2 separate regions of the Homo sapiens genome follow, and region 1 is linked to region 2. Evidence: fine-mapped QTL for protein levels in blood plasma. A gene starts in region 2. The other region holds a variant in brackets. All regions are shown on one strand. Distances are between the middles of the regions.

What was found. PIP is the chance, under the fine-mapping model, that this variant and not a neighbour inherited with it causes the effect. Protein levels are from antibody-based Olink assays in UK Biobank. Linkage for the fine-mapping came from a reference panel and not from the study's own genotypes, which makes the PIPs less certain.
Region 1: its variant is fine-mapped to the plasma level of the KLRB1 protein (UK Biobank, PIP above 0.99).

The regions. Positions count from the first base shown.
Region 1 is chr12:9,660,217-9,663,136 of GRCh38, reverse strand. No RefSeq gene overlaps it. Among named protein-coding and RNA genes, the nearest start is that of CLEC2D, 8.0 kb to the left of the region's middle. The variant G/A (reference allele first, on the strand shown) is at 1,358.
Region 2 is chr12:9,606,246-9,609,165 of GRCh38, reverse strand. It overlaps KLRB1 (killer cell lectin like receptor B1), which reads left to right and starts at 1,250. Exons shown (of 6, transcript NM_002258.3): 1 at 1,250-1,411. The coding sequence starts at 1,327.

The DNA of each region.
Region 1 (2,920 bases), 54 kb before region 2:
GGAGTGAAGGGTTTGGACCACCTATCTGGTATCACAACTTCTCTAGATACTACCAGATAGACTGGTTTCTAATTTCCCTGTTTTGGTGAGCTGACAGGGCCCAGCATCTGCTAAACCTCTGGGGCTACACAAACCAAAACAGCAGTTGCTTTTAAAATAATAATTGTTATAGCCCTGTTACTTCAAATATTTTCAGAGCGGTTTTTAATAAGCATGTGGGCACTTCCCCCTGCTCCCCACTTTGGCTCAGTGCAGTGATAAAGCCTGGCTTCCAGCTTCTCTCTGAAAAGCAAAGGAGACAGACCAAATAACTAGCACCCCAGCTTTTCTGGCTGCTACCTGAGGAACTGGATTTTATCTCATGTATCTGAGAGCACTGGAAGGGCCTGGCATACTCTAGATGCCTGAGGACCATTAAGAACAAACATTGTGGTTTCAACTACCAGGAAGGTTTAAGTGGCACCCAGAACCTCTGTCTGGACTGATTGGTAAAGGTGTTGTCCTATCTGAGACCTGTCTGTGAAGACTGGAAAGGAAGCTGTTTTATCTGGTGCACAGACACCAATGCAGACAGTCAAGGAAAATAAAGAAATGGAAAATATGTTCTAAATGTTACCCACACAACAGGTGGGTTCAGTCACTTGGCAGGTATCAACCCAATGACCACCGACAAGGTGGATTTAGCAAGGAGATTTTGTTCTTACAGAAAGTAAAGAGAACACTGGACAAAGCTCCCAAAGTAGTACCTCGCCAAGCTGGGAGGTGGGTCAGGTTTTATAAGCATAGGGTAGTGAGGAATAATCTGATTGGATCTTGCAATGAGGTGATGCTGGGAGGCAAGATCTGACTGGATCCTGCCATGAAGTGATGCCTGAGTTCTATCCAGTTGGATCCTGGATCCTGCCATCCTGTGTCCACCTCTTAATTCGGTCCCTGTACCTCAGTCTGAATGATTAGGTTTCCCTTGTGGTTGCACACTTGTTTCACCTGTCCATGCTCAGGTTACATGACCTGAGTGAGGGTCCATGACAACTGAAGAACAACTCACAGCTTTGTTACCATAAAAGTTGAACCATGCATGTTTATTGCTGCACTATTCACAATAGCCAAGACATGGAATCAATGTAGATGCCTATCAACAGTGTTCTGGATAAAGAAAATGTGGTACATATACACCATGGAATACTACACAGTCATAAAAAAGAACAAAGTCATGTCCTTTGCAACAAAAGATGCAGCTGGAAGCCATCATCCTAAGTAAATTAATGCAGACACAGAAAAACAAATACCACATACTCTCACGTATAAGTGGGAGCTAAATGCTGGAAACATGTGGACATAAAGATAGGAAAAATAG[G/A]CTTCGAATTAAGAGAGCAGGGAGAGAGGGAAGATAAGGCAAGTTCTGAAAAACTACCTATTGGATATTATGCTCACTACCTGAGTGATGGGATCATTGGTATTGTAAGATCAGCGTCATGCAATACACCCATGTTAACAAACCTGCACACGTACTTCCTAAATCTAAAATAAAATTTGAAATATAAAGAAAACAAAAAACAAACCCAAACATCTTGCTGGTAATACAGAAAATATGGCTCATGGTAGTGGAAGCCCCCATAAAGCATGTGTGATTCAAAAAAATAAGAATCAAAGCTGAAAAATGAAACATACAGACCAACCATATCTATAGGAAGCACTCTGTAAATGAGGTAGCATGGAAAAAAAAGATTATGTTGAATAAAAAAAAAAAAAGTTGAACCAGATTTGTTAGGAAAGCAGGAGCATAGGAAAGCCAGAGTGACACTATTTTAAAATCAACTCCATCTAAAAACTAGCAAGGCACTTCCTTGACAGTTATGACCTACGATTATAAGATGTTTACAGCTAAGGAAGCGATTTAGTAATGCTGCAAGGACAAACTCCTACGACAGCAGAATGTCCAGATGTCCCAATATCACATAACAATACATGCTTTTAAGGTAGCTAAAGTCATACTTTGATGTACTTATGCACTAAGATGACAAGGATAAGTTTCTTTATATCAACAAAATACTAAATTTTGTCACACTGACAGCCTACCCACATGTAGACATAGCTTAGGTTTTACATAGATTAAACCCCTATAAAAGAAGAGTTTAAAACAAAGACAGCACATTCCTCCTCCTGCTTTTGGAGGATGCCCTACTCTGTAACTGAGTAGCTTTCAATAAACTGTCTATTCTCTCTACACTCTGTGACTCTCCTTGAATTCCTTCCTGCAGGAGATCCAAGAACCCTCTTTCATGGTCTGGTTCAAGAGCCCCTTTCTGACAACAGATCAGTCTGGAGCAGTTACAAATCCCCTCCTTTTTATGTCCATTCCTCAATCTTGAGGGAAAGGGATGATGACCATTCTAACTACTTCTTGCTGATTAGGGACATAAACGTTGGTTAGAGTAATAAAGTTGTTTAGCGCTTTACTGTAGGAGTTCCCTGGTATTAGGGCTGCATTTCAGATGGAGTTGTTTCCATCCAGTTCTAGAGAAAGGTACAGAGAGTTAACAACTTAACATTGTTTGCTCCAGAGAACAAAGGGAATGCTCAGATTTTATAGCAAGTATTCATACCCAGGCTCCCAATCAAGTCTTCTACACAAATAAATGGTTAAAATTTGAAACTCGCTTAGTTTTCATTAGTCAATACAGCTGATCCCTGATTAGCTGACACAAGTGAGCTTTAATTGATTGATTTAGGTGAGTCTTGAAAGTCCCAAAGTTAAGGAGTGTGGGTTTTCCAGGAACTCAGAGCATTTGTATGAAATCTAGTTAGCAAATGGCTGCTTTGTGCTATTTAAATTTAGGTCCAGTTAGTCACTCAGAATCCATCTTGAAGGACTGGCTCAAACATGCTGGCAAACAGCATTGCATTCCATCCAACAGAG
Region 2 (2,920 bases):
AGACAGTGTGGCGATTCCTCGAGGGACTAGAACTAGAATTTGACCCAGCCATCTCATTACTGGGTATATACCCAAAGGATTATAAATCACGCTGCTATAAAGACACATGCACACATATGTTTATTGTGGCACTATTCACAATAGCAAAGACTCGTGAACCATCCCAAATGTCTATCAATGATAGACTGGATTAAGAATATATGGCACATATGCACCATGGAATAGTATGCAGCCATAAAAAAGGATGAGTTCATGTCCTTTGTAGGGACATGGATGAAGCTGGAAACCATCATTCTGAGCAAACTATTGCAAGGACAGAAAACCAAACACCGCATGTTCTCACTCATAGGTTGGAATTGAACAATGAGAATATTTGGACACAGGGAGGGGAACACCACACACCGGGGCCTGTCGTGGGGTGGGGGGAGGGGGGAGGGATAGCATTAGGAGATATACCTAATGTAAATGACAAGTTAACGGGTGCAGCACACCAACATGGCACATGTATACATATGTAACAAACCTGTACATTGTGAACTTAAAGTATAATAATAATAAAAAAAGGTAAAAAAAAAAAAGTAGACACATACTATAATCACCTTGAAAAAAAAAGAAAGTCTTTCAAAGAGATAAAAAATTCCATATACTCCACTTCCTACAATTCTGGCAGTTTCCAAATACTTTTACTTATGTGAAAATGCTATCATATCCAAGAGTGCCTTTAGAGCTAAGCTAACAGTAGGCTACTGATCTTTAGCACATTGCTTTTTCTGTTGTGTTATTCAGGGGGCTTTCTCACATTTATGTTTCCATTTTTCACATTTCACAACTTTCTTTGGAGCACAGATATTTCAGGAAGATTTTAGAGCCTTTGAATAGCATTATGGACTTTTTTGCATTAATTTTTACTTTTACAAAATTGTGCTAAATATTATTTCTGTTAATTAGTGAGTTTTGTTGGGGGCCCCTTAAATTGGAACCCCAGGCTATGCCTCATTTGCTTCACTCTGGTCCTGGCCCTGAGAGAGGAACACAAAAGGGATGGTTAGAAAAACAAGAACAAATGAGCCTCCCAGAATTTTCTCAAACAACAGGCCAGTTAATTAAGGAAAGTAGATATTACATAGCTAGGTATAATGAACATGCAGTCAGTGGATTGTCTCAGTAATTTATGGAGATAACCACCAACAAAAAGTGTATGTGGGTGGGGACAAAAGAGAGACAACAAAGTACTGCAGGCAGAAAGCTTCCTTTTGCTGATTTTGCCTCACAGAATTGAGAGTTTGTTCTTACACACAAGTTTAATGCCACCTTCCTCTGTCTGCCATGGACCAACAAGCAATATATGCTGAGTTAAACTTACCCACAGACTCAGGCCCAGAAAGTTCTTCACCTTCATCTCTTCCTCGGGGTAAGTGGCTTTAATTTTCCTTTCGGCATTTGTATGTCTTCCAGAATTAGATCTTCCTGTTACATTTATGGCTTTAAATCATTGCTTTAAAGATGAGCAGTAGTTTTATATTAATGTTTAACGGGTGTTGCATGGCTTGCCTGTAGATAATCACAACTTTGGGAAAAAAAATTTAAACCTCATACATTTATTTTTTTCAATCAAGTTAGCATGAAAAGCAAACATCACTTGTCTTACTGAGCCTTGGTTAAAAGACTCTGAACACTTTAGGCTACCCTGGGCACACTGCCTATTGGTTACCCCTGCTCTACAGGGATGGAAAGAAGGAAGAAAGAAAGAAAGAAAGAAAAGAAAGAAAGAAAGAAAGAAAGAAAGAAAGAAAGAAAGAAAGAAAGAAAGGAAGAAAGAAAGAAAGAAAGGAAAGAAAGAGAAAGAAAAGAAGAAAGAAAGAAAGGAGAGAAAGAAAAAGAAAGAGAGAGAAAGGAAAGGAAAGAAAGAAAAAGAGAAGGAGGAAGGAAGGAAGGATGGAAGGAAGGAAGGAAAAATATTTTACATGTATGAACTAAGGAATATTTAAGACACATTGCAAACTTGCTGTAATAACAACCTACGTTATTCCAAATTCCTCTACAAAATATCAATACTATGATTAAGTCCCAGTGCATTTTCATCCATAATATTCCTTTCAGAATACAACGTGTAGGCCAGTTGCAGTGGCTCATGCCTGTAATCCCAACACTTTGGTAGGCTAAGGTGATTTGCTTGAGTCCAGGAGTTTAAGGCCAGCCTGGGCAATGTGGCAAAACCTCATCTCTACAAACAATACAAAAAAATAGCCAAGTGTGGGGCACGTGCCTGTGGTCCTAGCTACTCGGGAGGCTGAGGTGAGAGGATTGCTTGAGCCCAAGAGATCAAGGCTGCAGTGAGCTGTAATTGTGCCACTGTACTCCAGCCTGGGTGACACAGCAAGACTATCTCAAAAAAAAAAAAAAAATATATATATATATATATATATATATACTTTTTATACATATATTTTATATATTTTATATATATATATATACTTTTTATACATATATTTTATATATTTTATATATATATATATAAAGTGTAGGCTTAATGAGTAACATACTTCACTCTCTCAAGAGAGGGGAACACTTTCTGGAAAAAAAATCATATTCAAGATCAAAGATTTGAATATCATTACTACCTGATAGTTTCTAGTTTGAAAAGTATCACAGCTTAGAAAGAGACAAGCCACAAAAATACTCGAGCATATCAGTAACGAACCTACTTACCATTTGTTGAAACTGGCACTTTCCTGTGTCTCTGAAGAGTTAGCATTCTGAGTGAAAGAAGCGGGGAACACCAATGTGAGGTAACACATGATGGATAGCATGGCCTGTGGATGGATGGGAAGAAACTAGAAACTGAGGCAGAAAATCAGCATGAAATTATTATGACACATTATTATTTTCTGATATCTAACTGAATTTACTATCATTGATA